Linked DNA regions of Homo sapiens: region 2 is linked to region 1. The links come from fine-mapping of genetic effects on gene expression. Tissue or cell type: whole blood. Region 1 holds a variant in brackets; the other region holds the start of a gene. All regions are shown on one strand. Distances are from middle to middle. Region 1 overlaps LRRC8D (leucine rich repeat containing 8 VRAC subunit D). Region 2 holds the start of LRRC8D (leucine rich repeat containing 8 VRAC subunit D).

Region 1 (5,382 bases):
ACGCATTTTGTACGTATTTTTAAGATTTTCCTTGAAATTCTTTTTAACGTTCTCCATTCCCCCTTTTAAAGTTACTTAGAAGGGCTGTTATAGGAAACCTCATTTGCTGCAGATCTGATTATCTTCTGGGATAAAGATAGGTAGAAGTTGCAGGGAGACATACTTTAGGTTAATGCAAGGAACAAATCAACTTCAAAGCCATGCAGAGCTGGGCTGAATTGCTGGGTGCTGTCCAGGGCCTTAGCATCAAGGGCACTTTTGAGAGTCTGTCCATCCTTGGCCAAGGGAGTAGAGAGATTTGAAACTTCATGGGAGGGTGGGGCAGAGATGCTCTCTAAGGTTACACAGTGTGTACATACCATTCAGTCACAAGCTTTGTGCTAGAAAAGCCCATGCTTAAATACCACCTCTGTCCCCTGCTAACTGTGTGACCCTAGGAAAGTAAGCTAAATTCACTAAGCCTCAGTTTCCCCCTCTTTAAAATGAGGTCAAAATGATAAGAGGATTATCATGTGACTTTAACATACATAAGGCACTTGGTTTAGTTATTCCTTCCCACTGACTTTGTGATTCTATAGTTTTTCATTCTGTGCCTTTTTTCCTTTCTTTCTTCTTTTCTTACTCTCCAGTTCATTCATTGTAGAGCCATTAATGGTTTTTTCACCTTGTATTGTCCTCTTCTTTATTAATACCTGTGCCTTAGGGCCTACTAGTGGTGCCAGGGATTCCCTGAGCTCCTTTGGTAGCATCACTGTCCATGTCACATATCTGGACAAGTCAGCGAAGAGGTATTGGTCCTCTGTATCCTTTGGACTTGGCATATGGGCATCCCTGAAGACTTTTACAAAGCCAAGATTCATTGCTACTTTAGCTTTCCTGTGTTGTGTACTATAACAAGTTCTGCTCCATGAAAGCATCAGATAGCAGTTGGATATAGATGGAGAAAAAGGTTTTGTACAGGGACTTATGGATGTAGAAATCTATGCTGGTAACATTTATTTTTTCTTCATCTAAGTTTCTGTTTTTGGAGCCAGGCTTCTAATTACAAATAATTGTATTTGACAGAGAAGAAGAATATCAGATCCTGAAGGGCCAGAATGATTCATCCTCTTTAAGGGGAACATGTAACATAACTTTGGGGAATAGCTATAGATACTAAAGGGGCAACATAAAACAGTTATTGATTACAAAGTGTATGAAGACCCAGTTGCTTGGCAGAGTGATATCATTTAGAAAAGTGGTAGAATCTCATTCGTACACACTTCATGACTAAAAGAGCTGGTTATACCGTTAGATTGTTAAAGCTAGAAGGAGGCTTTCAGGTCACTCTATGCAGCGATTTTCTTCTATTAATAATAAAATGGAGATCAGAAGAGTGAAGTGACTTTTTCCTTGAAACATAACTCTTAATACTAAAAAAGGCAAGTCAGGGAGATGTGGGCCCTAATTTTGTTGTTATTTTCTTACATCTAGTGTACCACCCTGACTCCAGCCTCTGGACCTGGGAGTCATTTCATTGTAGCTCAAAGAAGGCTATATATACCCTGTTAGCCCATACTGCTTACTAAGTTGTTAATGAAAAAGTTATTGTTCTTCATAAGAGATCCGTCTTTTGTCCATGGTAAATGATGTTATGAAATTTTTGGTTTATTTGGTTGTTCTAGGTTAGGAATAATTGAAGTAGGCCAGTCTTTGGACAGTTTAGTTCTCCTGTGTTTAGCACTTTTTGTATTTCTTCTCTGTGCTGGATGTATTTATGTTTTTCAGTCTTTCTGTGAGTTAACTCTAGGAGATGGGTATAACTGTATCCATTTTTGTCAGATGATAAAAAGAGGCTTGAAATGCTTAAACAACTTGTTCCAGGTTATACAGCTTATAAACTGGAACTGGATCCCAGGTGAGTTTTCCAGAGCACATGTTCATAATTGCTGTCTTTTTTTTACATTTCCTGCTTCCCTTACTACCTGAGTATTGGGGGAACAGGCTGTGGAACTGAAGATTTTACTGTAACAAATGATCCAAGGAAGATCATCTGGCCTGACCCCTTGGCTTCCAGCAGGAAGGGTGTTTTCTCCCGTGATTTCATGGATGAGATATTCAAGGCCTTGTTTTTATTTATTTTTTGGTTTGCTGTTTCAAAATAAAAAGGCTTTTAGTTCTTTGTTATTATAAAAGTAATAAATTCTCATATAAAGAAAATATAGGAAATAAGGAGAATTAAAAATGACCTTTGTAGTTCCCTAGTCAGTTGATGAAGAGTGGATTCAGATAGCTGTATCCCCTCACTAGCCATTTGACTTTGGGCAAGTTTTATAGCCTTTTCATGCCTCAGTTCCCTGTATGTAAAACAAGAATAATAATAGTGCCTGCCTTATATAGTTGTTATGAGGATTACATGGGCTCTTATTTGTGAAGCATTTAGAACAGTGACTGGCACACAGCAAGTGCAGCACAAGCATTGGTTGGATAAAATAAAGGGCTGCCCATGTAGTCTTCTGGTCTGTGGCCCCTGGAGGAAGAGGCAGAGGCAGACCCAAAATGTAGATCACGCAGTACACAAGTGGGTAATGGGCTGAGCTGTGTGTTGAAGCAGAGACAGGAAGAGGCGGCCTGGGAACCTCAGTTTCTTTTTGCCTCCTTAGTGATCCTAATAACCTGGAATATTAATAAACTTATGTCCCTCACTTTCAAGATGCTGAAAATGATTATGCTTCTTTTTTTTTTCCTCCTAGCTTTCAGAGAGCTCATGGAAACCAAGCCTGTTTATTTGAGATTTTTCTGTTGCAGGGTAGGCCAGACATGAATTTCCTTTCATGTGATATTTTCTGTGGTCTGTGTT[A/AG]TTTAGTTCTTCCTTTGTTTTCTTGTGCTTTGGTGTGAAGAAAGAAGATGCCCTGTTTATAAAGCCTTGGTCTTTCATGTATCATGCATTCTTAAACTAATTCCAGTTGCTCTGACCCTTTGAGATTTTAAAATTGCTTTGTTCCGGTTTTTAAGTACTTTTGAAATATTAAAAATGTTCATGAGGGAGTGGGTCATGGGAAAAATTTCCCAGGGTTGTTTGTTCTTAGAAAATTGTGAATTTGCATGGAGAGGTTTTATGCTGGGTTAAATTCTGCCAGGTGCATTGGTCACTTGAACTTGAGTCTGGTTCTTTTGATATTTAAATCCGTGTTGTTATGGCATAAAGTGCAGAGCTGGAACCTCTTAAAACTAAATGCCTGCTATGTTGAGCTCTTGCCCCATTGTCCCATCAAAGAAAGGTCTTAACCAGTACTTGGGTTTGCATTGAGGCACCATGTCAATAGTGAGGATCAAAAGATTGGTCTGTTCTGTTTTTTGTCTTTGAACCAAGACTTTCCAAAAAGAACATAGACTTGTTTTGAATATTGCCGCCTCTGGGTGTGAGTGATTATGCAAGTCAGTAGCATTTTTGTTTTTTTGTTTTGAAAAAACTGTTCAACATAGATGCAGAGGTAAGAAATTGCAAGAAAAACAAAAACACTTTTTCAAACTTGTACAAAGCCATCTTTGAATGCAGGTGGTCCTCAGTTTACAAGGAGTTGTAATTCTTCCTTCATCTGATGAAAGACACCACTATCCACCAGTTACCATTTGAACACTTTCCATGATGTATCCTTCTCATTTAACTCCCAGATGCAATGAAGTGCCAAGCCCTCTCAATTCTATCTTAAATTTTATCTGGTATCTCTTAACTGTGCTGTGGGCTGCTGCAGTCCACAGCTCCAGTTGCGGCCTCCATCATGTTTTGCCTGGACTGCTGCAGCTGCCTCTGAACTCCAGTGCTCTCTATACATTGGAACCTTATGTCAGTGACCTCCTTAACACCCTCCAGTGAATTCTCATTATCCTTGGAACTCCTTAATAAGGAGTTAAAAGCCAGAGTCCTTAAGACATCAAGACCTTGCCGCAGGAAACCTCAGCCTCCATCTCTAGTCTAGAGTACTAGCTTTACCTACCCCCGACCCCTCACCATCTTCCAGACACAAAAAACTTCTTCCTGTACTTCTTATTGGCTAAGTTTTCATGACAATAAGCTTTGACTACAGGGTATGTCTGATGTCTAGCACACTTTTTCCCCTTCTGCTCCTTCACTTTTGTTTGGGTAACTCCTGTGTCTTCTTTTGGTTTTAATGTCCTTCCAGAAGCTGTCTAACCCCTAAACTGGATTAGGTCCCCTTGCTGTTTCCATAGAACATTTTACATCTCCAACATTTCACTTATTACATTGATTTGCCTTTTCTAATAGATTTCAAGCCCCATAAGGGCATAAATATGTCTATCTTGTTTCCCACTGTATCCCAATACCCAGCACACAGTAGGATCTCCCGTGTTTTTGAATGAATGTGGTCCAGATCATTCCCTTATTATTACTTGTAGTAGTGCTTAGCACACAACCTGTGAATGAATTTCATTCCTTTAAAGGGAGTTTTCAAAAACCATTCTTGTTGATTACTTTGCTTAATTGTACTAAATATGTATAAACATGAAATTATATATATATATATATATATATATATATACTTTCTGTGCTTATAGTTTTTATAAAACTATTAAACATTTTAAAATCGCAAATACAAATAATATATTAAAACCTTTGAAATTTAAATTAATAAGATGAATGCTTTTTTGCCAACACTAAATCACTTATGTTGATTTTTTAAAATATGAAGTTGTTCCATTGGGTCCAAATATGTACTTAAGGCATATGAGTCTTTTGACTGATAGTAGTAATGTAGAGAATACTTATTTGCATAAATAAGTTATTCAGAAGCACATTATGAACTCGAAAGCCTTGCTTGCTAGCTCAGGACTATCAGAACTTATCAGATCGTAAATCTGCCAGTGAATAGTTCTTTAGTTACAATTTTAATGATTTTAATGACTTACAACTTTTTTGTTAGAGCTGTAAATGTCCTGTTCATTCAAAGATGATGTTACCATTTCAGAATTACTGACATCAACTCCAAATATATATCTAATTCAACTATTGGCAGAATCAGGAACAGGAATATGTTTGTAAATTTTAGTTCTTAGAGATATGGAAAATTTTTAAGGTTTTCAGCATGCAGCCAAGTGTCAGACTGTTGAAGGAAGTCAATAGATTATAGAAATGACTCATTCAGATTATTTTGAAAACAACTTGAACAGAACTTTTTGTTATCATTGCCTCCTCTTTATAATTTTTGAATTGCTGAAACAAAACCTTTGCTCTACAATACCTGCATGTGTAGCACATACCTTCATGTCATTTGACCTTCCCTTGGTGTGTTTCTGCAGATTATGTATCAAGTCTGCCTCTGTCCTTTCCTCATCAGCCTGAAGCAGTTACTATAGTACATTCCTTCACTGTTTGTCATTTTA
Region 2 (5,382 bases), 43 kb before region 1:
TGATTCTCCTGCCTCAGCCTCCCGAGTAGCTGGGATTACAGGTGCCTGCCACCACTCATAGCTAATTTTTTTATTTTTAGTAGAGACAGGGTTCCACCATGTTGGCCAGGCTGGTCTCGAACTCCTGACCTCAGGTGATCCTCCAGCCTAGGTCTCCCAAAGTGCTGGGATTACAGGCATAAGCCACCATGCCCAGCCAATTTCTGTTGCTTATAAGCCACCCAGCTTATGGTATTTTGTTATAATAGCCTGAATATACTCTAAAACAATCCTTTAAATTTTTAAAATTATTATTCTGATTATCAGAGTAATATGTGCTCAATATAAAAACAATTCAAACATACAGAACTTGATGAAAGGCCCTAGTAATCCCACACCCAGAGATAATCACCATTAACAGCTTGTTATATATGCTTCCAGACTTCTTCTGAAGCATACATTTAATAACATGTATATCTTAATGCAAAAAAGTACAAAAAAATGGAATCATACTATTCATATTGTTCTGCAGCCTCCTTTTTTTTCACTTATAGATTTTGGACATCCTTCCATGTAGGTACAAATAGATCTAGCTTATTTTTGTTAATGGCTGCTTATGGTTTCCTTCTACAGATCTAGCAAAATTTGCTTAAACAGTTTCCTACTGGGACTTTATTATTTGATTTTTACACCATTACATGTTCCCACTATTACAAACAATGTTGCAATAAGACACGTATATATATATTTTTGTACATGTGTAAATATTTCTGACATAATTTTTGCACAAATATGCTTAAAGCACAAACTCTTAGACATGGACTTACCTATTCAAAGGGAACACACCTATTTATCAAAAATTTCCAAATTGTCCTCCAAAGGGGTTTGTCCAATTTCCTCTTACTTTTACAGTGTGTGAGTGTCTATTTCTCCACATTTGACTGTTTTCTGAATATCACTTTTTTCTTTTCTCGATTTATACCAATCTTAAAATCATGTTTTTCAAGTCTAGAATCACAATTTAAAACCCAGGGAAGATCAAAAGAACAAAGTACAGAAGATTGGTTTTTTTGGTTTTTTGGTTTTGAGATGGAGTCTCACTCTGTCGCCCAGGCTGGAGTGTGGTGGCACCATCTCAGCTCACTGCAACCTCCGCCTCCCAGGTTCAAGCGATTCTCCTGCCTCAGGCTCCTGAGTAGCTTGGATTACAGGTGCGTGCCAACATGCCCAGATAATTTTTGTGTCTTTAGTAGAGACGGGTTTTCACCATGTTGGTCAGGCTGGTCTCTAACTCCTGACCTCGTGATCCTCTTGCCTCGGCCTCCCAAGGTACCGGGACTACAGGCGTGAGCCACTGCACCCGGCCTATAATTTTTTTTTTTTTTTACAAACAGCAAAACATTCCATATTCATTATAATAGTGGGCTGTTTTCAATAAAAATATCACACCACTAGTTGTTAAGTTTTAAAAGACCTCTCATCTCTTAGATCAGCAAATCTGACACTGATTAGATCACTTACACACACTCCCTGCCCATACACCTCCTTCTTGGCAGTGTGTGGAACAGGAGTGGCTGCTGGCAAGGAGGGTCGGGGAAGGAAAGTGAGAGCAAAAGGGCCGAGGGCTCAGAATCTGGTGGCATCTTGTAACGGGTCTCGGGCAGTCCCTTGAGTGTATTCTGGACCTCTCTGTTCATGTTCCTGTTTGGGCTGCTCTTCTTCACGTCCAATGCCTGAGGGCCAAGTGCTCACCATCCAAGGGTCAATTCTATCAGCTCCTCTCTGAATCCTTTTCTGAAACCCTGGACAATCATTCTCTTTAATGTCTCACTGTCTCTGAACCGACACCTTCCTGAGTACCTGTAACATTTGTGCAGCATGCTTATTAAGAATATTTAGATGCTGGGTAAACGTTGATTGAACATTTGCTGACATGGAGAGATATTGGTAGAAGACAGATTAGACTTCCGATGGTTTACAGAAACACATGGATTCAGATAAAAGAAGATATGAAAGCACTGGGTTGAACCACATATTTTATTACAACCAAATAACTCCAAATATCCCGCCTTAATTTATTTATTGGCCCCTGCCTCTGCTCACCCACAAAAAAGACTGCAAATGAACCCCGATCCTACAACAACAACAACAAAAAACGGTGACATTATCGGGCTGCAAAACCCTCTTAGCATAGAATAATCTTTTCATCTGCCTCTTTCAGATGTAACATATTTTTGACGAAAAGAATGGGATGAAAACGGCGGGCTCAGATAAAAACAAGAACCGACTTTCCAATACAGCTTCAATAACAGACGGAACACATGAAGCTGAGAAACTCTCCATGCCAAGTAGTAGTTGTGTGTGCCCCAAAGCTCAGATAAGTACTTCTCCTTAGAGTTGGAAGGCACTTAAGTGACTTTTTAACGTAATTCAACTCCCCACCCCCAGCGCCAAGTCTTAATATCAGAGTTTTAGTCGACGGGACAGCCTCCTTCGCCCAGGACGGGTGAAGGCTCCTGACCATGCCTCGCAGCTAACTGGCAGCTGCGCCTGCCCGGCACCGAGCCCTGCCCAGGTGGACGCTTGCGAGAGCATTACGGCGATGGTTATGTAGGCTGCCGTTCTTCCCCTCCCAAGCACCTGCTCCGCATCTAGCAGTCGCTCGCCGCCAGTCTCCAACCCCGGGTCCCCTCCCTCGCCACACAGACCCCGTCCGGTCAGGCGCTGCAGGGCCACCGGAGAAAGCGCTCGCAATCACATGGAGGCCCGGGCCCGCCCCATTGGCTGCGGCCGGGCCAGTCGCGGCACTCGCCGGCTGCGGTTGGTCCCAGAGCTGCAGCGCCTGCACGGGCCCGGAGTCCATGTTACGCTTTGTCTAATTCCCCTCGTTACAGAGTCATGTGCTGCTGCTCCCGTCGCCGCTGCTGCCGCTGCCGCTGCCGCCGCCCGTGGTGCCCCGGCTCCTCCGCCGCGCTTCGAGGTGGCAGCCGCGGGCGGGGCCGCGGGAGCAGGGTCCAGGGTGCAGCGCGCCTTCGCCGCCCCGGCGCGTCCCGGTGCAGCCGCCGCCCGCCGCGGGTGATGCCGCCACCTCCGGCCTCAGCATAAGCCGTGGCTTGGCGGCCGAGCTGCACCCCAAGGTTGGTGCGCACCTCTCCCGGCAGGGGCCGGGGGCTGCGAGGGAAGGCGACGCGCAGGTGGAGCCGCGCCGAGCCGGAGCGCGCAACCCTGGCGCAGGCGCCGCGGCCCGAGCTGCGGTTGCGGCCGGGAACTCATTCGGGGACGTCCGGGGGTCGGGAGGAGGTGGCGGCGAGCGGAGTGGGCTCCCGTTTGCTGCCGCCAGGGCCTGGGAGATTGTTCCGCTTTCTGCAGTCTGAGCGTCGGCCGCTTCGGCCCCGGGCGGCCGGCCCTGCGGGAGGGGAGTGCGGCTTCCTGGCTCCTGAACCCCTCGCGCGCGCTCCCTTCTCTCACCTCCCTCCGCCCTATCGGAAAGGCGGGGAGAGCCGGTTTCGGCTCTGCTGGTTCCTCCCGGAGGTGGGTGTTTGGTGTCTGGCCTTGCTGGCCCGGCGTCCAAAGGTGAGCCCTTTAACTTCTCCAGAATCGCCTCCCCTCCGCTTCCTTCCTGTGCAGGGTGGGCTGCGCTGGGAGCCCGGCGGGCGGGGGCGGGGAGGTGAAGGCCCGCGCCCCGCCCCCCGCGCCTGTGGGAGGGAGCTGGGGGCCCGCAGGTGCACCCAGCCGTCCGCGGGCCGTCTCCGGGTTGGGTACCGGTATAATCCGCTTCTAGCTTGTTTGGAGGCGTGGGCTCTTGGGAGCGGGACTTCTGCTCAAATCCTGTCCAGGGGCTTGAAAAGGAGGAGAATTGGGGGTGGTTGCCGGGAGGACCAGCACCTCCAGTTACTGGAGGGTTGATAGGGGCCTTCTCCTTTCCGTCACCCTTTACTAGGGGGTATCCCTTGCAGATAAATGAGATTTTTTGATTTCTTAAAAAGCCAGCTGCAGTGAAGAAGAACTGCTGCAGGTCGAGGGGAAGAGAGGTAGGTCCTTGCTGGAGAGGGAGAGGTGGGCTGTGAGGTTCCAGGAGCACGCACTTGGGGTGTGTGTGGCCGAAAGTATGGAGGTAGGGTTGTGGGAAGGAAACAGCCGAGATGAGAGGGAGGGCGCACTCAGGATGTAGGCGGAGAGATGGGGAATAGGTACTGGGGAGTCCTAGCGGAATGTGGGGCCCAGCTGGAGCCGCTTGGCTTATATTTGGCTCCTCGTTGCCTCGCAGATTTCCTGCTCTTGGATCTTCAAAAATATTTTTTTGTTGGACAAAGAAAACTCTGAGGACATATTTTGGAAGAGCTGATTTCTGGAAACTTTCCTTGGCAGCTTTGATAGTAAAATTCCGTACAGGCAGCGTTTATTGAGCACCTATTACGTGGTTTGTACCGGACTTTGGAAGAGTCTGGACAGGCAGGGAATCCCCGTTTGCAGTAATGATGAGGGCTGTCTACCTTATAAACAAATAAGGGGCCCCTCCCAGTGCCAAGAATGAGAGTGATCAGACCTTCCTCGCCATAGCATCTGGGACCTCTGCTTCTTACAGACCTGTGGGAAGAACCCTGCACCATATCCTGTAAATGGGGTCCTCAGGCAGCATTTATTTTTGCAGTCCAAAAATAGTGACCAAACACCTACTGTCAGCTAGGCGAGAGTTGGGGTTCTTGCTTCATCTGTCTTGACACCAACTAACTAAATCCCTGTTAAAATCCAAGTGCAAGATGGGGAGGAATCTGAGATGAAAATTAGGTGGTTAAAACAGGGGTCACGAAAAGTTGATTTGGGGTGTTTGGTCTCTGTAGGTTACTTATGGAGCCCCCCATAAAATGATTAGGTAATCTATGGAGCCAGGGAAAAATTCCAAAATCTTGAATTGGCACAGTTTATTTATATATTTGAACACTATGTTAGATTTGTCTCGTTTTTATTGAGAGTGTATGTGTGCGTGTTGATTAAAACCTAACAGATTAGAAGGTTGGAGAGGAAACTGTCCTTAGATGACCCAGCCTTCCATTACCATGTGGAGTAGCATATGATGCAACACTTAAAGTATTGAGCCATATTCATATCATTTTCTCCCTGCTGTGTTTTCCAGCATTTAAAAAACATGGTCAAAACTTGGCCCTTTTTTTCTCAAAATCGCTAAAGTTTAATGGAAAGAAAAAAGAAAAAAACTAGGCCCCTTTTCCCTTAATTTTTATATTATGCAGCATTTTTAAAAATTAATTTTAGAAAATTCTGATGTGTTTGTCATGTCCAAATAGTTAAATTGTTTTGGTAGCTATAGTTTGGAAATTAGACTCGATTCTGTTCTCAGTACTGTAGACAAAATAGCTATTAAAGTCAAAAGTTTGTCAAAACTTT

Evidence for each region.
Region 2: LRRC8D starts here. The variant in region 1 is fine-mapped to the expression of LRRC8D in whole blood (TOPMed, PIP above 0.99). The same link has a PIP of 0.9 or more in T cells.

Annotation. Positions count from the first base shown.
Region 1 is chr1:89,860,820-89,866,201 of GRCh38, forward strand. All of the region lies in intron 2 of LRRC8D (leucine rich repeat containing 8 VRAC subunit D), which reads left to right. Among named protein-coding and RNA genes, the nearest start is that of LRRC8D-DT, 42 kb to the left of the region's middle. The variant A/AG (reference allele first, on the strand shown) is at 2,840.
Region 2 is chr1:89,818,176-89,823,557 of GRCh38, forward strand. LRRC8D (leucine rich repeat containing 8 VRAC subunit D) reads left to right here and starts at 2,857. Exons shown (of 3, transcript NM_001134479.2): 1 at 2,857-3,116. It overlaps LRRC8D-DT (LRRC8D divergent transcript), which reads right to left and starts at 3,619. Exons shown (of 1, transcript NR_185885.1): 1 at 1,999-3,619. RefSeq lists silencers at 2,386-2,445, 2,886-3,235, 3,336-3,435, 3,526-3,735, 3,607-3,826.